2 separate regions of the Homo sapiens genome follow, and region 1 is linked to region 2. Evidence: fine-mapped QTL for protein levels in blood plasma. Region 2 holds a variant in brackets. A gene starts in the other region. All regions are shown on one strand. Distances are between the middles of the regions.

What was found. A credible set is the group of variants that fine-mapping cannot tell apart. PIP is the chance, under the fine-mapping model, that this variant and not a neighbour inherited with it causes the effect. Protein levels are from antibody-based Olink assays in UK Biobank. Linkage for the fine-mapping came from a reference panel and not from the study's own genotypes, which makes the PIPs less certain.
Region 1: SPESP1 starts here. The variant in region 2 is the best candidate, but not a certain one, in a credible set for the plasma level of the SPESP1 protein (UK Biobank, PIP 0.79).

The regions. Positions count from the first base shown.
Region 1 is chr15:68,926,407-68,936,190 of GRCh38, forward strand. It overlaps SPESP1 (sperm equatorial segment protein 1), which reads left to right and starts at 4,119. Exons shown (of 2, transcript NM_145658.4): 1 at 4,119-4,311. The coding sequence starts at 4,248. It overlaps SPESP1-NOX5 (SPESP1-NOX5 readthrough), which reads left to right and starts at 4,119. Exons shown (of 17, transcript NR_033672.2): 1 at 4,119-4,311. RefSeq lists a silencer at 795-995.
Region 2 is chr15:41,610,583-41,620,366 of GRCh38, forward strand. It overlaps LOC105370791 (a long non-coding RNA gene), which reads right to left. Exons shown (of 4, transcript NR_188233.1): 2 at 1,953-2,152. It also overlaps the pseudogene LOC124903614. Among named protein-coding and RNA genes, the nearest start is that of MGA, 45 kb to the right of the region's middle. The variant A/C (reference allele first, on the strand shown) is at 5,125.

The sequences.
Region 1 (9,784 bases), 27 Mb after region 2:
TGTTGCTATTTATTAAGTCTTTATTGAGCACCAGCAAGGTGTTGTGTAAAATAGACAGCATAAAAACAACTATAAAGGGGAGATAAAATACATCCCTGAAAAAAAGTCATAACAGTAAATGATACTGTTTGATTACCTATCAAAACAGTCTACAGAATCCAGAGGTGAAGCAGAAATGCAGGCTACTTTTCTCTGGGTAGTGAATTAGCCACTTCAAAAATATTTCAGTGAAGTCAGTAAAGGAAAACATGAGGCATAATAAGACATTTCTACCACTAGCCCTCCTTTCTTCACTAGATTTTGTAAAAAGTTACTGTTTCTATTTTTAATTACATGAGTAATCTTGCTTCAAAAAATTCAAGGGATAAGAAAAAGTAAAAAGCAAAATTCTCCCTTCAAAATCCCCTGTTCTCCTCCAATCTCATTTCTCTTTCTGGAAGTAAGCACTATTATCAGCTTACTGTGTTTCCTTCCAGAATGATTTCAGATGAATTCATGGAAATATGTAACTGGTGTAATTTTGCATAAGTGGATATATGTGTTTTTCTGAACTTTTTTACTCAACACCATATTTTAGAGAATTTTATATGTTAGCACATAGACCATGGAGTACAGAGCTACAACATTTTTTTTTTTAAACTGGAATTCCACAATTAGGATATACCTTGGCTATTTCACCGTTTCCTTTTTAATGGTTAACAAGATGAAAACTGCTAAAGTCTTATTGGGGTTTTTATAACCAAACAAGGGAAAAACGACTCCAACTCTGGGCCTAAAAGACATCCTACTTGAACCTCTCACTTGCAGTTCCTCATTCAATCCCCAAACTGCAGTGTGTTTCACAAATCCAGTCTCCTAAGTGAAGGGAAAGCAGGAAACCCTTGACGAATTCAGTAGTAATACAATGAGATAAGTATGTGCTGTGATTCTTAACTCCTAGCCTTCTCCAAAGGGACCAGTGATCATCTAGGGATAAATATGCACTGAAAAAAAAGGAAAATCGCAGTATGCCACAGTAGTTCACTGGTTAGAGTGGGGTTTACAGGGGTGAAGTAATTAAAGGAATTTTAACCCAAGTCCACCTTACAGTAAGTTCGATGGAACCCTAAACCCTTCCAGTGTTTTTTCCCCAATTCCTGAGTGTACATTTAAAGGACATAAGGCAGAATCTTCACATTGGTTTCCTAACCTTTAGAACAAGGGTGAGCAAGATAGAAAAGACTATGAAGAATCCACAGAGCTTTATTACACTCTCCAACCCCCAATCAAAATAGTAATGCACAAGTTATAACAATCCCTTGTTGACTAGCTATAGTGTCACCCTAAAATATCTGAATCAATTATCTTAATTTATACCTGCCTTCCAGCTTGACTGGTAATGAAAACAGATGGACCTGGAAGAATGACTGACAATTATTAACTCAATTAAGTAGTGTACCCAACTGCAGGTGCCTTTCCAAGCATGGTCTCTTTCAAGGAACAAATCAACAGAGACCCTTGTATGTAGCTATTGCTTACGCAAATGCTTTCTCCTCCTCCATTTAACAAGCACTTACTGTCTTACAGTTTCTGTGAGTCAGGAATCTAAGCGTGGCTTAGCTGGGTGCCTCCATCTCTGGGTTTCTCAGGCAGCTACAATCAAGATGTCAGCCGGGCTGTGGTCAACTCCAGGCTCACCTGGGGAGAATCTATTACCAAGTTCACTCACCTGATTGTTGTCAGGCCTCAGGTCCTTACTGGCTGTTGGCTGGAGACATTGGTTCCTCAACATGTGTCCGGAATTGGTGGGTTCTTGGTCTAACTTAAAGAATGAAGCCGTGGATCCTCGTGGTGAGTGTCACAGTTCTTAAAGGCAGCATGTCCGGAATTTGTTCCTTCTGATGTTCGGATGTGTTTGGAGTTTCTTCCTTCTGGTGGATTCGTGGTCTAGCTGGACCAGGAGTGAAGCTGTAGACCCTCATGGTGAGTGTTACAGCTCTTATGGTGGCCCATCTGAGTTGTTCATTCATCCCGGTGGGTTCGTGGTCTCACTGGCTTCAGGAGTGAAGCGGCAGACCTTCGCAGCGAGTGTTACAGCTTATAAAGGCAGTGTGGGCCCAGAGTAAACAGCAGCAAGAGTTATTGCAAAAAGCGAAAGAACAAACCTTCCACACGACAGAAAGAGACTCCATAGGGTTACTACTGCTGGCTCGGGCAGCCTGCTTTTATTCCCTTATCTGGCCCCACCCACATCCTGCTGATTGGTTCACTTTACAGAGAGCTGATTGGTCCGTTTTGACAGGGTGCTGATTGGTGCATTTACAATCCCTGAGCTAGACACAAAAGTTCTCCAAGTCCCCACTAGATTAGCTAGACACGGGGTGCTGATTGGTGCATTTACAAACCTTGAGCTAGACACAGAGTGCCCATTGGTGCATTCACAATCCCTTAGCTAGACATAAAGGTTCTCCAAGTCCCCACCAGACTCAGGAGCCCAGCTGGCTTCACCCAGTGGATCCCACACCCAGGCGCAGGTGGAGCTGCCTGCCAGTCCCCGGCCCTGCGCCCGCACTCCTCAGCCCTTGGGCGGTCGATGGGACTGGGCGCCGTGGAGCAGGGAGCGGCGCTCCTCAGGGAGGCTCAGGCATGGCAGGCTGCAGGTCCCGAGCCCTGCCCTGCGGGGAGGCAGCTAAGGCCTGGCGAGAAATCGAGCACAGCAGCTCCTGGCCCAGGTGCTAAGCTCCCCCCAACTGCCCGTGGCCAGCGGGGACGGCCGGCCGCGCTGAGTGCCGGGCCCACCGAGCCCGCCGAGCCCACGCCCACCCGGAACTCGGGCTGGCCCGCAAGCGCCGTGCGCAGTCTCAGTTTCCGCCGGCGCCTCTAGTCTTGCTTCCCTCCAGTCCATTCTTCATGCTACAGGAAGAGTGAGTTTTCTGGAATACAAATCTAATCACAACCGTTCCCAGCTCAAAACCTAGCAGTACTCTAGTACTGGTGCCTCAGACTAAAATCCAAGCCCCTTGCTTCCTGAGGCAGAGATGAGTGTACGTGAATTTTTAAAAATAACCATACAGAAAAACAGATTCTTTGGGATGTGCAGTTCTGCGAATTTTTATTTTTATTTATTTTTTTGAGGTGGAGTCTTGCTCTGTCGCCCAGGCTGGAGTGCAGTGGCACGATCTCGGCTCACTGCAACCTCTGCTTCCCGGGTTCAAGTGATTCTCCTGCCTCAGTCTCCCAAGTAGCTGGGACTACAGGCGTGTGCCACCACCCACGCCTGGCTAATTTTGTATTTTTAGTAGCCACGAAGTTTCACTATGTTGGTCAGGCTGGTCTCGAACTCCTGACCTCAGGTGGTCCGCCCACCTCGGCCTCCCAAAGTGCTGGGATTACAGGAGTGAGCCACCGTGCCCGGCCTTCTGTGAATTTTAACACATGTATAGATTCTTGTGGCCACTGCCATCTATTAGTCCCCAAAACAACCTCATGCTATCCTTTCATAGTCGTACTCTCCCTCATCCCTACCCCTATCTTTTTAAGAAGGTCAAAGAAATGGAATGTGATCTTTTGAAAAACAAAAACACCCAAGCCCCTTAGGGCGTTTTTAATGCCCTTGCCTACCTCTCCTCCCTGTCCTCCAACAACTGCCCTCCCAAGCCCCACAATGCAACTCGCCGGAACTATGCTCAGTTCTTGGGGTGCTCCAAGCTGTCCTCCACTTAGCCAAGCTCCCCACCCGCTTCCGGGGGTGGGTTTCCACTGTGCACAACAGTACCTAGCGCTTCCCCCACTACAGCCCCCTTTCACGCTGTGGTAATTGCCAGGTTATCTGCCTCTCCCATTACAGTTCCTTCCTCACAGGGACCGCGTTTAAACCACGGCGGTATCCCTACCGCGCAGGATGGGCCGAGCCCCGCACGCCCCGAGGCAGCACCCCGCACGCAGTAGCCGGGCGTCGAGGCGTTCCCAGCCCACACCAGGCGCGGACCTACGAAGGCGGAGCGAGCATGCGCACTAGGAAGGGGCGGGGCGGGGCGCGCGCGATCCCCCGCCCCCTGCACGCGGTCCCAGGAGGGGCGGGCCTTGGCCGCTCGCTCTCCCCTCCCCCATGCCGCTGCGCTTGCGCGCTGGGGACAACCGTTGCTGGGTGTCCCAGGGCCTGAGGCAGGACGGTACTCCGCTGACACCTTCCCTTTCGGCCTTGAGGTTCCCAGCCTGGTGGCCCCAGGACGTTCCGGTCGCATGGCAGAGTGCTACGGACGACGCCTATGAAGCCCTTAGTCCTTCTAGTTGCGCTTTTGCTATGGCCTTCGTCTGTGCCGGCTTATCCGAGTGAGTGACGGGCCTGAGGAGGCAGCGGACCGGGGACACCCTGGGGGAACTTCCCGAGCTCCGCGACCTCGAAGCCTGGCCCTTCCTTCTCCCTGGTCCTACATGCCTCCCTCCCCCACTGTCCGGGGTCCTGGCCTCGACGCCGAGGGGTGTCCCTCTCCTCTCCTGGTCAGGGAACGCAGCAACTGAGGCGGCGCGGCCCAGATGAGACGGGAAGCGCCTGCGGGCCGTGGGCGCGGGTGGAACCCCCTCACCTCACCGGAGGCCTTCCTCTGCCCACCCGATCCTTCCCCAGCCATTGGGCGTGTGACCGTGCAGGGGTCGTGTGACAGCTGCTGGCCAGCTAGGAATGATTTTTACATTTTCTTCCTTTTTTTTTAATTATTATACTTTAAGTTCTAGGGTACATGTGCACAGCGTGCAGGTTTGTTACATATGTATCCATGTGCCATATTGGTGTGCTGCACCCATAACTTGTCATTTACATTAGGTATATCTCCTAATGCTATCCCTCCCCCCTCCCCCCACCCCACGGCAGGCCCTGGTGTGTGATGTTCTATTTTTGCATTTTCAAAGTAAATATGAAATGTACTCTTTCATGACTTGTGGAAAAGCATGACGCTCACATTTCATTGTTCGTGAATAAAGTTTTACTGGCACACCACCACGCTCATTCCTTTACGTATTGCCCATGGCTGCTTTCCCACGTTAGAACAACGGGGTTAAGTGGTTGCCACACAGTCTGGTCTGCAAAGACTGAAGTATTTACTCTCTGGCCCTGTACAGAAAAAAAGGTTGACCCGTACGGTAAAATTTGGAGAGCATGTGGATTGTGGGTCGCGGTCTGGGACACTCACCTGAGGATGCGCTCCCAGAGAGCATGCTTGCGCACACGGCATTCAAAGCCTTAGTTAAGCAGGATTATAACTTAAGACCTGCCAAGGAGCAATTTTTGTCCCTCCCCGAAAGCTGAAAACCAATAAGGTCAAATTCAGGGGTGCTAAGACTTTACTATATTAACAATATCATGTGGGCACCTTAAGGCACTTAGTATTTAAGTCAGGTAGGTGAGGCTTCCCCATTTAGTCTAACTGTAGTTCATTGTGGCATTTAGTAATGTTGGAGTTTGGTTTCACTTAAATCAATAAATACAATTTAACAGGTGTAAAAAAAGCGCTATCGTGCATGCTGATTATGCAAATCTATTTTTCAGAATTGCTAAACGATCTTAGTTAAAAATCAAATTTAAAAACTGAAAATACAACACAATCTAAATTATGAATAGTAATGGGAAAAGTTCTAGATGAAGTTCTAGGTAACTAAAGTTAGCTCTTTAAATACTAGCATTTATGATTTGTAGCTGTTTTTAATAAAAAGTTTTGTAAAATTTTTCTTCCTTGACATAGAGGACCAGAACATAATGAAGATGCTACTATCTTTTCTTGATGTCTGATGATCATTATTACTAACACCAGTTATTGCATTTTGGTAGTTGTAGATCAGCAAGTCACAAGTGACTAACATATATGGAGACTTTAACTGAAGTGACTTTAACACTGTCACACAGTACACTCTGGGACTGCTAGGTAGGAGTCCCTGGACACCCACTTAACTCAGTGCAGTCTCTTGCCTAACACCATAATTTTCCCCTCCCCCTCCCCTTCCCTTTTCCCCCCCTTTTTTTTTTGCCTGAGACAGGGTCTCACTCTCTAGCTCAGACTAGAGTGCAGTGGCCCGATCTCGGCTCACCGCAACCTCTGCCTCCCAGGCTCGAGGGATTCTCCCACCTCAGCCTCCTGAGTAGCTGGGATTATAGGCGCACGCCACTACCGCCTGGCTAATTTTTGTATTTCTAGTAGAGACGGGGTTTCACCATGTTGGCCAGGCTGGTCTCGAGCTCCTGACCTCAAATGATCCATCCGCCTCGGCCTTGCAAAGTGCTGGGATTACAGGCTTGAGCCACTGTGCCCAGCCAGCCTGTTGTCTTTCTTAGCACCCTATTCCCTAATCTTTCTTGGGAAGAAAGAAAAGGGTTGTAGGAAATGAAAAGACGCTTCCCAGAAAAAAGGAGTGATTTTGTGTTGAATATATAGATGTTATAAGACATAAGGAAACTATATACAGGTTGTAATCATAGAAGATGTCTTGGAATATGTAATTACCTTTCTTCTACAGAAGTGGATTAAGGAATATATAGAGCAGGCAGTGGTACATGGCTGCTTTCTCTGTATCTGTCTCTCTACTTTTTCTCTAATTTTAATTTTGTTTTTAAAATAAGTATACCAAAATGCGTATATCATTGAGCTTGATGTAAATCAGCTATGCATTCTTTTATATGGCCACTATTCAAACAATTGTTGGCGAGATGCAAAAGATAAGGTACATAGGTTTTTATAATGAAAAGTGCAGCTTTGACACATTTTTTCTAGACTACTAGACAGTTTTGAGGTTATTACGCAAACATCACGGGTGTATTAAGTAATTGCATTTATTGAAAACCTCAGTACTTCTTGTATCTGCCTATACCTTTCTAACAGGCCCAATCCAAGCTTAGCTAGTATTTGTTTAATCTAAATTCAGTTAGACATAAATGCAGCTTGGGTATACAGAAGTCGGCACTCCTTTACATACACACACACACATCCTGATGGTGCTGGAGAAACAACGTTTTACTATATAAAATTTTTATACATTCAGTTTCCTCTACCTGATTTTTCCATAGTTTTAAATACTTTGCCATTTTTAAATTTTTGAATGGGAAAGTATTTAATGTATTCCCTCTTTAATGTATTTGCACTGTGCAACTTACTTTACTTTTTAATGAGAATTCTTTTTGCTTTAAAAAAAAAAAAATGCACAGGCCGGGCACGGTGTCTTACACCTGTAATCCCAGCACTTTGGGAGGCTGAGGCGGGCAGATCACCTGAGCCCAGAAATTCAAGACCAGGCTGGGCAACATGGCGAAACCCCGTCTTTACAAAAAATACAAAAATTAGCCAGATGTGGTGGGGCAGGCCTGTAGTCCCAGCTATTCGGGAGGCTGAGGTGGGAGGATCACCTGAGCCCAGGAGGTAGAGGTTGCAGTGAGCTGAGATGGCGCCACTGCATTCCAGCCTGGCTGACAGAGTGAGACCTTGTCTCAAAAAAAAAAAAAAGCACAGTAACTTCTAAAGTAATATTAACATAATAGTTACATATTTAAATAATATCAACTACTATTAAAATTATATAATTGGCCTTTTTAAATTTTAAGTCATCAAATATTCATGGGCTGGCAGTGCAAACTAATTAAAATTAAAGTGTGTTAATATTAATTTAATATTAATATATGTTAATTTTTAAATGATTCAAACTTTGCATAATAAGTATAAATAAAATTAAAATATTAATTTTGGGGTATCTCCCAAATAAATTATTTCCTCTAGATCATCTCTTGGTATAGACTAGGAAAAATAGGGTTAGTCTAGGATTACAAAAGCTCTTATTTCTAGATTGGTATTATAAGAAGGCTCAATGTATCAGTCTTTGGCTTCTGTCATTGTGTTTAGGAAGGATTTTGTCCTAATGAACCACAGAAGGTAAGGGAAACAATAAGGCAGCAACCAGCAACAATTGTTTGAATCTATCACCAAATAAATTAAGAGGAAAAGAATATTCTTTTATTTCAAATACATTCTAAAGGTAAAGTTCACTGAGTTCTGGTGCTGCAAGTTCACTTAGCTAGTGCCCAAGGCTACAGCATTTAAAAGGTCTCTCAAACCTGTGAATAAACTGTCATGACACACTTTGTTAATGTTTGAGATAATGAGGAGCATGTCATCCAATAGGCAAGTGTCAAGAGAGTATTCTGTGGGGGAGTAGCAGGAAGTTTCATTAGCCTGTCCATTGATGTTTTATGGGGGAAAAAAGTCCTGTCTTTCTGTTCTGTTGATCATATTATCCCTTAAATGGATATACTTTAATCTCTTGATAATATATGTGAAATTAAACTTAAGCAACATTTTTTATCTCCAAATAAAATACTAGTTATTTGAAAAGAAAATATTTTCTTTTTTTTTTAGTATCACTATATATTTGAAGCATTTTAAAAACACACAATTTATTTAACCTAAGTATAGTTTTTTCCGAGCCTCAAATATTCATACCTTGACCATTTGGAGCCATTGTAAGCTGTCTTCTCTTGTTCTTTTGATAGGATCCCATATATTTTTAAAGACTTCTTGTTTTCTGATGTTAACTGATTGTTCCAAGCCCACTTTGTGTCTTTCCCACTCTATCTTTCTCACTCTGAATGGAATTAACTGTCTTTCCAAGGGGATGGAGAACATGGTATGAGAGACCAAAGTGCCTGCGATACATACTAGACTACTGCAGTGGGGAAATATTGTTATTTTTGTCATTTTAGTGAACAGAACTAGAAGAGAAAGATTTAAAATAATGAGTTTATTTTGGTTTCAATTATAACATTACTCATAGGATGCATCTTGATTTTTAACTCTTTATCCGCACTAGAATTGTAACATAATTTAATAAGGCTATTTTGGTTGTGTATTGTGGCAAAAATGACTGCTCCCCAAATTTATCATTTTTCATGATTCTATGGGTTCACTAGACTCAGCTGGGCAGCTCTGCTTCATATGGTATAGCTGAGGTCACTCATGCAGCTGCATTCAGCTGGAAGTTCAAATGGATAGGAACATCCCAGATGGCCTCTCATCCTCCAGGGTCTTTACATGACTTCTCATCTTTCAGTACTCTAGCCCAAGTTTCTTTACACCATGGCAGCTTGCTTCCAAGAAGGAGATTTATAAGCCCCAACATGGATGCTCTTACGAAGCCTACACTGTATCAGACTTGCTAATGTCCTATAGGCCAAGACAAGTCACATGGGGCAAGCCCATATCCAATGTCAGAAGACACTACCCAAGAACATGAATAGCAGGAAGTGTAAAGCCATAAAGTTACATTTCTTTAACTGGAACACTTGATTAATATGAACATAATTACTTGTTTATTTACCTGTCAGCAAAAATTAAGATTTGTGTAATAATAAATTATAAGAAAATTGCTGGATGAATAAGAAGATTTAATATTTCCTTTTATGACCATTCCTTGAGTACACCTCAGTAATTAAGCACAATTATTACTACTTTGAGTTGGAAATACAGTACTCCAGCTCAGTTCGTTTTAAAATTTTAACCTTCATAAAAGTTCATTTTAATTTGAAGGTGTTGGATATTTTAACTGGTAGTTCTTGCATTATTACAGCTTTCAGTTATTAATTCTTACTTTAGTACTTAACTGCTGTAGAATAAGGGAAGTTTATTCTTTATGAGTCCACTTCATGGTATGTATAGAAAATACAAGCAATTTGTTCTCCAAAGTTATGGACATTCAGCCAGAGTGTGTGGACCATCTATAAGTGATGGATGCTTGGGTATATGTTTAAGTTTTATATACATGAGTTCTTTAT
Region 2 (9,784 bases):
CTGACCAAGATGGTGAAATCCTGTCTCTACTAAAAATACCAAAATTAGCTGGGCGTGGTGGCGGGCACCTGTACTCCCAGCCACTCGGGAGGCTGAGGCAGAGAATTGCTTGAACCTGGGAGGCAGAGTTTGCAGTGAGCCGAGTTCGCGCCACTGTACTCCAGCCTGGGAGACGAAGCGAGACTCTGTCTCAAAAAAAAAAAAAAAAAAAAAAAAAAAAGGAAATATCTTGGGAATTCAGGCTGGGGTGACTTTGTGTTTGTGAAGAGTCTCCTAAGAAGCTATGGAGGTTACTTTATATTCTCTAGCTAATGGAGAGTCACCAAAGGTTGGTTGGTTGATTTGTTTTTTTGAGACAGAGTCTCGCACTGTCGCCCCGGGCTGGAGTGCAAAGGCGCGATCTCGGCTCACTGCGACCTCCGCCTTCCCGGTTCACACGATTCTCCTGACTCAGGCTCCCGAGTAGCTGAGATTACAGGCGCACACCACCACACCCGGCTAATTTTTTGTATTTTTAGTAGAGACGGGGTTTCACTATGTTGACCAGATGTGTCTTGAATTCCTGACCTCGTGATCCGCTCGCCTCGGCCTCCCAAAGTGTTGGGATTACAGGCGTGAGCCACCGCGCCTGGCCTTTTTTTTTTTTGAGACGGAGTCTCGCTCTGTCCTCCAGGCTGGAGTGCAGTGGCGCGATCTCGGCTCACTGCCAGCTCCGCCTCCCGGGTTCACACCATTCTCCTGCCTTAGCCTCCGAGTAGCTGGGACTACAGGCGCCCGCCACCATGCCCGGCTAATTTTTTTGTATTTTTAGTAGACACGGGGTTTCACCGTGTTAGCCAGATGGTCTCAATCTCCTGACCTCATGATCCAACCGCCTCGCCTCCCAAAGTGCTGGGATTACAGGTGAGAGCAACCGCGCACGCCTGGCCTTTTTTAAAAAATCAACTTCATTAAGGCATAATTTACATACAATATAATATATAGATTTTAAGTATACAGTTCAGAGTTTTGATAAATGCATACATTTGTATAACCATTACCCTAATCAAGATAGATAACCTTTTTTTTTTTTGAGACAGGGTCTAACTGTGTTGCCCAGGCTGGGGTGCAGTGGTATGATCTCAGCTCACTGTAGCCTCAACCTCCTGGATTCAAGTTATCCTCCCACCTTAGCCTCCCCAGTAGCTGGGACTACAGGTGTGTGCCACCACACCCAGCTAATTTTATTTTTTGCAGAGATGAGGTCTCACTATGTCATCCAGTCTGGTCTCAGACCCCTGGGCTTATGTGATCCTCCAGCCTCAGCCTCCCAAAATGCTGGGATTACAGGTGTGAGCCACTGTGCCTAGCTGATACAGAACATTTCTGTCACCTCTAAGTCCTCTTGTGCCCCTTTGTCGTTGATTCTGCCTCTTCCCACAGGTAATATTGTTGTGATTTCTACTCCCGTATGTTTTGGTTATAGATTGTTGTATCTGTAGATCGTTTTGTCACCCCAAAACCCAGTGGCTTAAAAGAATAAAAATCATTGGCTGGGCGCGGTAGCTCATGCCTATGATCCCAGCACTTTGGGAGGCCGAGGTGGGTGGAACACGAGGTCAGGACTTCAAGACCAGCCTGGCCAACGTGGCGAAACCCTGTCTCTATTAAAAATACAAAAATTAGCTGGGCGTGGTGGCAGGCGCCTGTAATCCCAGCTACTCGGGAGGCTGAGGGAGGACAATCGTTTGAACCCAAGAGGTGGAGGTTGCAGTGAGCTGAGATCGCGCCATTGCACTCTAGCCTGGGCGGCGCGAGACTCTGTCTCAAAAAAAAAAAAAAAAAAAAAAGAATAAAAATCATTTATTTGCTCATGATTTTGCAATTTGGTCATGGTTTAGTGGAATCAATTTGTCTGCTTTGTGGGTCACCTGGGGTAGCTTGACTGGGGCTGGAGAATTCACTTCACTTACATGGCTGGAGAGTTGGGATAGGCTCTGGGCTGGGAGCTCAACTAGAACTGTCTTCCACGTGGCTGTTTGGGTTTCCTTACAACATGGTGGGTGAGTACCAAGAAGGAGAAAGTTGAAGCTACCAGTGCTTGTAAAGACCAGACGCAAAACTGGTACAACATCACTTCAGCTGTATTCTACTGACCAAAGCAGGCATGAGCCTAGAAGAAATTCAAGGGGATGGAAAAATAAATTCCACTTTTCAGTGGGGAGAGTGACAAAGATGGGCCATCTTTATTCCACCACATCATAGATTAATTTTGTCTGTTCTAGAATGTCCTACAGAATGGAATCATACACTGTGTTTTAATATATGTCTGGCTTTTTTTGCTTATTATGTGTTTTGAGATTCATCTATATTGTTTTTTCCTTTTTTTTTTTTTTAAATAGAGATGGCTGGGGGGTTTCACTATGTTGCCCAGGTTGGTCTTGAACTCCTGGGCTCAAGTGATACTTCCACCTCAGCCTCCCAAAGTGTTGGGATTACAGGCCTGAGCCACTGCACCCAGCCATTCAACTATATTGTTGATATATCAGCAGTTCATTCCTTTTTATTGACAAACTCCAGAACTCCATTCTTTTTTTTATTGCTGAATATAGTCCATTGATAATCAATTTGTTTACTTATTTATCTGTTGATGGACATTTGAGTTGTTTCTAGTTTTTGGTTATTATGAATAAAGCTGTTATAAAATTTTTAATACAATAGTTTTTTGTGTGCTGGGCACAGTGGCCCAGGCCTGTAATCCTAGCATTTTGGGAGGCCGAGGTGGGTGTATTGTTTGAGCTCAGGAGTTCCAGACCAGTCTGAGCAACATAGCAATACCTTGTCTCTACTAAAAATAAAAGAAATTTTAGCTGGATGTGGTGGCGCACACCTGTAGTCACAGCTACTTGGGAGGCTGAGGCTGGAGGATTGCTTGATCCTGGAGGTTGAGAGTGCAATGAGCTGTGATCACGCTACCGCATTCCAGCCTGGGCAACAGAGTGAGACTCTGTCTCAAAGAAAGATACAAAGTTTTTTGTGGATATATGTTTTCATTTCTCTTGAGTAAATACCTAGGAGTTAAATTGCTAGGTGATAGAGTAAGTATATGTTAAATTTATAAACAATTGTCAAGCTGTTATCCAAAGGGTTGTACCCTTTTCTTTTTTTTTTTTTTTGATGGAGTTTTGCTTTTCATCCAGGCTGGAATAAAGTGGCGTGATCTTGGCTCACTGCAAACTCTTTCCCCCGGGTGCAAGTGATTCTCCTGCCTCAGCCTCCTGAGTAGCTGGGATTATAGGCGCCTGCCATCACGCCTGGCTAATTTTTGTATTTTTTAGTAGAGACAAGGTTTTGCCATGTTGACCAGGCTGGTCTCGAACTCCTGACCTCTGGTGATCCACCCGCCTCACCCTCCCAAAGTGCTGGGATTACAGGTGTGAGTCACTGCGTCTGACCAATTGTACGATTTTTTAATAGAGATGGGCTTTCACTCTGTTGTCTAGGATGAAGTAAAGCAGTGCAATCCTACCTCACTGCAGCCTGAATCTCCTAGGCTCAAGAGATCCTTCGACTTCAGCCTCCCAAGTAGCTGGGATCACAGGTGCACACCACCACTCCTGGCTAATTTTTAAATTTTTTTGTAGAGATGGGGTCTCACTATGTTGCCTAGGCCGAATTGTAGCAGTTTATACTCCCAGCAGCAATGTATGAGAGTTTTAGTTGCTACAAATCCTAGCCAACACTTGTTATTGTCAGTCTTTTTATTATTTATTTATTTATTTTTGAGATGGAGTCTTGCTCTTGTTGCCCAGGCTGGAGTGCAATGGTGTAATCTTGGCTCACTGCAACCTCCGCCTCCTGGGTTCAAGTGATTCTCCTGCCTCAGCCTCTGTAGCTGGGATTATAGGTGCCCACCACCACACCTGGCTAACTTTTGTATTTTTAGTAGAGACGGGGTTTTACCATGTTGGCCAGGTTGGTCTCGACCTCCTGACCTCAGGTGATTTGTCCGCATTGGCCTCCCAAAGTGCTGGAATTATAGGCATGAGCCACCACGTCTGACCTTGTCAGTCTTGTTAATTTTAGACATTGTAGAGGATGTGAACTGGTATCTCTTTGTGGTTTTAATTTGTATTTCCCTAATAACTGGTGGTGTTATGCATGTTTCATATGTTTATTGACCACTTGTAGATTTTCTTTGGTAAAATGTCAGTTCGTTTACTCATTTAAAAAATATTGGCCATTGAACACTTTCTGTTTTATGGAATGAATTATTTCCTGATTCTAGAACTGCAACAGGCTGGGCATGGTGGCTCATGCCTGTAATCCCAGCACTTTGGGAGGCCGAAGCGGGCGGATCACCTGAGATCAGGAGTTCGAGACCAGCCTGACCAACATGGAGAAACCCTGTCTCTACTAAAAATATAAAATTAGCCTGGCGTGGTGGCACATGCCTGTAATCCCAGCTACTAGGGAGGCTGAAGCAGGAGAATCGCTTGAACCTCGGAAGTGGAGATTGCGGTGAGCTGAGATCGTGCCATTGCACTCCAGCCTGGGCAACAAGAACGAAATTCCGTCTCTCAAAAAAAAAAAAAACAAAACCAAAAAACTCAAAAAACAAAACTGCAATAAAGCCAATTGAATTCTTTAAAAAAATATATATATTGGCCAAGACTACACTTTCAGGAATCATTTCTATAGTTTGTTACTAGAGAAGTTTCTCTGAATACGTAGAGCAAAATATATAATAAGACAAAAAGGGGGCCAGGCGCAGTGACTCATGCCTGTAATCCCAGAACTTTGGGAGGCCGAGGCAGGTGGATCATCAGGTCAGGAGATCAAAACCATCCTGGCTAACATGGTGAAACCCTGTCTCTACTAAAAATACAAAAAATTAGCCAGGTGGAGTGGCACACGCCTGTAGTCCCAGCTACTCAGGAGGCTGAGGCAGGAGAATCTCTTGAACCCAGGAGGCAGAGGTTGCAGTGAGCTGAGATCGCACCACTGCACTCCAGCATGGGTGACAGAGCGAGACTCCATCTGAAAAAAAAAAAGAAAAAGAAAAAGAAAAAAAGGCCTGTGGGCTGGGTGTGGTGGCTCATGCCTATAATCTCAGAACTTTGGGAGGCAGAGACAGGTGGATCA[A/C]CCTGAAGGCAGGAGTTCGAGACCAGCCTGACCAACAAGGTGAAACCCCTGTCTCTACTAAAAATACAAAAATTAGCCAGGCGTGGTAGCAGGAGCCTGTAATCCCAGCTACTAGGGAGGCTGAGGCAGGAGAATCGCTTGAATCTGGGAAGCAGAGGTTGCAGTAAGCCGAGATTGTGCCACTGCACTCCAGCCTGGGTGACAGAGCAAGAATCTGTCTGAAAAAAAGAAAAAAAAATGAGAAAAATATATTGGTCAGCCTGGGCAACATGGCCAAACCCTATCTCTACAAAAAATACAAAAAATTAGCCGGGGTGGTGCTGCATGCCTGTAGTCCCACTTACTCCCTAGTAAGTGGGAGGCTGAGGTGGGAGGATTACTTGAGCCCAGGAGGTTGAGGCTGCAGTGAGCTAAGCAGCTGTGATCTTGCAACTGCCCTCCAGCCTGGGTGACAGAGTGAAACCCTGTCTCCAAAAAAAAAAAAAAAATTGGATTTTTGTTTTATTATTATTACAGGGTTTTTTATTTATTTATTTTTTTTAAGACAGAGTCTCACTGTCGCCCAGGCTGGAGTGCAGTGGCACGATCTCAGATCATTGCAACCTCTGCCTCCCAGGTTTGAGTGATTCTCCTGCTCAGCCTCTCTTGTAACTGGGATTATAGGCTCCTGCCACCACGCCCGGCTAGTTTTTCTTGTTGTTGTTGTTGTTTTTTTTTTTTGTTTTAGAGGAAGTCTCACTCTTGTCCCCCAGGCTGGAGTGCAATGGCGCAATCTTGGCTCACTGCAACCTCCGCCTCCCGGGTTCAAGAGATTCTCCTGCCTCAGCCTCCAGAGTAGCTGGGATTACAGGTGCTTGCCAACATGCCCAGCTAATTTTTGTATTTTTAGTAGAGACCGGGTTTCACCAGGTTGGCCAGACTGGTCTTGAACTCCTGACCTCAGGAGATCCACCTGCCTCGGCCTCCCAAAGTGCTGGGATTATAGGCGTGAGCCACTGCACCTGGCCATTTTCCTGTATTTTTAGTAGAGAGGGGATTTCACCATGTTGGCCAGGCTGGTCTCGAACTCCTGACCTCAGGTGACCACCTGCCTCGGCCTCCCAAATTGCTGGGATTACAGGTGTGAGCCACCGCACCTGGCCTATTACAGGGTTCTTAATATATTGTGGATTTTTGTCCTTTGTTAGATATATGTATTGTGACTACATGTTAATGACTCAGAAGTCTCAATATTAAAATATTAATTATTCATGAATTGATCTATAGATCCAATGCCATTCCACTAAAAATCCTAATTTTCATAGAAGTTGATGAGCCAATTCTAAAATTTACATGAAAATGCAAGGGCCAAGTGCAGTGGCTCACGCCTGTAATCTCAGCAATTTAGAAGGTCAAGGCAGGAGGATTGCTTGAGCCTAGGAGTTTGAGACTAGCCTGGGCAACATGGTGAGACTCCTGTCTCCATAAAAAAACTTCAAAAATTAGCCAGGTGTGGTGGTGCATAACCCTAGCTACTTGGGAGGCTGAGGTGGAAGGATTCCTTCAGCCTGCAAGGTCCAGGCTGCAGTGAGCCATGTTCATGCCACTGCATTGCAGCCTGGAATAGCCAAAACAGTTTTGAAAAAGATAAGTTGAAGGACCTATACTACCGACCTCAAGACATATTATAGTTACAGAAATTAAGGCAGCATAGCAGTAGTAAATGGACAAATTAGGTCAGTTGAACAGAATACAACCTAGAAATAGACCCAAACATATATAGACAATTGATTTTTGACAAAGGTGTTATGATGGACCAGCCTCTAATGATGGACCCTAATCTATCAGGTCACACTCAATAGAGATTACGTGGCATTGAATATCATGATTCCTACCTCCAGGTATTCACATCCATATGTAATCTCTCTTGAGTGTGGGCTGATAGGTGTCAGAGGATGTCACTACTAGAGTTAGGTTTAAAAGAGACTATGGCTTACATTTTGGGGTAACTGTATCTCTCTTGGATTGTTTACTATCAGTAAAGCTAGCTGCCATGTTGTAAGGTAGGCCTGTGGAGAGGCCTATGGGGCAGGGAACCAAGGCCTGCCAAGAAGCACAAAGGAGCTTGGAAGCAGACTCCCCTCACGTTGAGTCAAGCCTTCAGTTGAGACTACAACCCTGGCCAACAGCTTGACTGGAACCTCTTGAGACACTCTGAGCCACTGGCAACCTGGTATGCTGTGCCCAGATTCCTTAACCACAAAAACAATGAGGTAATAAGTATTTGTTGTTTTAAGCTGCTAAATTTTAGAGGTAATTTGTTATACAGTAACAGACAACTAATACAGATGTCAAGGTACTTCAAAGAGGGAAAATAATGTTCAACAAACAGTGTTGGATCAACTTGACATCATTATGAAATAAATGAATCTCAACCCCTACCTCACACCATACACAGATTTTTTAATTTTTATTTATTTTATTTATTTATTTATTTATTTATTTATTTATTTATTTATTTATTTTGAGATGGAGTCTCGCTCTGTCGCCCAGGCTGGAGTGCAGTGGCACCATCTCAGCTCACTGCAAGGTCCGCCTCCCGGGTTCACACAGGTTTTGTAGCCTGGCAAAGTTACTGGAATGGTGGTGATACTACCCATGTAGAGGAATGCTGTAGTACTTGTGTGTAGTGGTGAAGGGACGGATAATTAGCTTGGCTTTGGAAATGCTGAGTTTCAGATGTCTATGGGAAGTTCTGCCTAAGCGAATCCCTCCCTTTTTTAAGGGTAAATGATGAAGCTAGTAGAGGTTCTATGGAACCACTGGAAGGAGGCCAGGAAGACAGCATCCGAAATATTGTTATATAAGTGAAGAGCGAGTTTTGAGGTGTCTTTACTTTGAGATATTCATATAAAAATTTTTAGTCTCCTTGAAGTTCAGGCACAGGTGCCCTCTCTAATCGTCTATCAGCATTATTTTACTGCAATAATGTCTACAGCTCAGCATTTTAACATGTTAAGAAAAAAAATGAAATGAAGGTGGGAGACAATGTAAATATATATACCAACAGATGGGCAGTAGTCACCAAGGATTCCAAAAAAGATCTGTGGTACACGAATCTGTTAGTGTTCCTCTAGCACTGTCTAGGGGAGAAACAGAATAGTGGAGAAAAAAGATTCAACAATGTGCTGTATTGCACAGAGTACAGGGTGCTAGTTTGAATGCAACCTTACCACTAACGAGCACTCACATTCATAGAGTTCATCATATTTATCAGGGATTATGACAGGTGTTCTAAATATTTTGATCTGAGAATCATTATGACAATCCAAAGACAATCCAGGCCGGGCGTGGTAGCTCATGCCTGTAATCCCAACTACTTGGGAAGCTGACAAAGGAGAATCCCTTGAACCCGGGAGTCGGAGGTTGCAGTGAGCTGTGACTGCGCCATTGCACTCCAGCCTGGGCAACCAGAGTGAAACTCCATCTCAAAACACACACACACACACACACACACACACACACACACACACAAGCCAGGTACAGTGGCTCACGCTTGTAATCCCAGCACTTTGGGAGGCCGAGGCGGGCGGATCATGAGGTCAGGAGTTCGAGACCAGCCTGGCCAACATGGTGAAACCCTGTCTCTACTAAAAATAAAAATTAGCCAGGCGACGTGGTGTGCGCCTGTAATCCCAGCTACTCTGGAGGCTGAGGCAGGAGAATTGTTTGAACCCAGGAGGCGGAGGTTGCAGTGAGACGAGATTGCACCATTGCACTCCAGCCTGGGCAAGAGAGTGAGACTCTGTCTAAAAAGCAAACAAACAAACAAAAAAACAAAAAAACAAAAAAACAAAGACAATCCAAACTGGCCTCAATTTGCAGTCAAAGGAACTGAAAATCAAAAAGTTCAAAAACGGGCAGGCGTGGTGGCTCACGCCAGTAATCCCAGCATTTTGGGAAGCCTAGGCAGGCAGATCACCTGAGGTCGGAAGTTCGAGACCATCCTGGCCAATATGGTGAATGAAACCCCATCTCTACTAAAAATACAAAAATTGCCAGGCATGGTAGCAGGCGCCTATAATCCCAGCTACTCAGGAGGATGAGACACCAGAATCGCCTGAACCCGGGAGATGGAGGTTGCAGTGAGCTGAGATCACGCCTTTGTAATCTAGCCTGGGCAACAGAGACTCGGTCTCAAAAAAAAAAAAAAAAAAAAAAAGTTCAAAAACCTGTTCACCACAATCAGAGTGCAGGAAGAAAAAGAGCTGCAAGTTGACATGGATCTGTCTGACTTCAAACCTTGGGTTCTTTCCACTATAGCCAATAGGTCCCAAACCCAGTTGTGCATAACAATTACCTGAAGAACGTGTTAAGATATATTTTTCCAGATTCCCACTCAAGACTGACTCAGAAAATGATACTACTAGTATAGCACTTTTCTCTGAGTTGTTGTAAGGATTATATATAATGAAGAATATTGGAATGTTTTATAAACTTCAAGTGTAACATCATATGCTTACAATTTAATGCTTTTTATTACGTATGATCATCTAATACCCTTTCTTTTGGTTTTCTAGTCAGGGAATAATTTTCTGATAATTAGGCTTATGGAGTACCTTGAAATTAGAAAAGGGTGCCCCAAACTATATTTTGGCTTGATAACCACATTATAAATGAA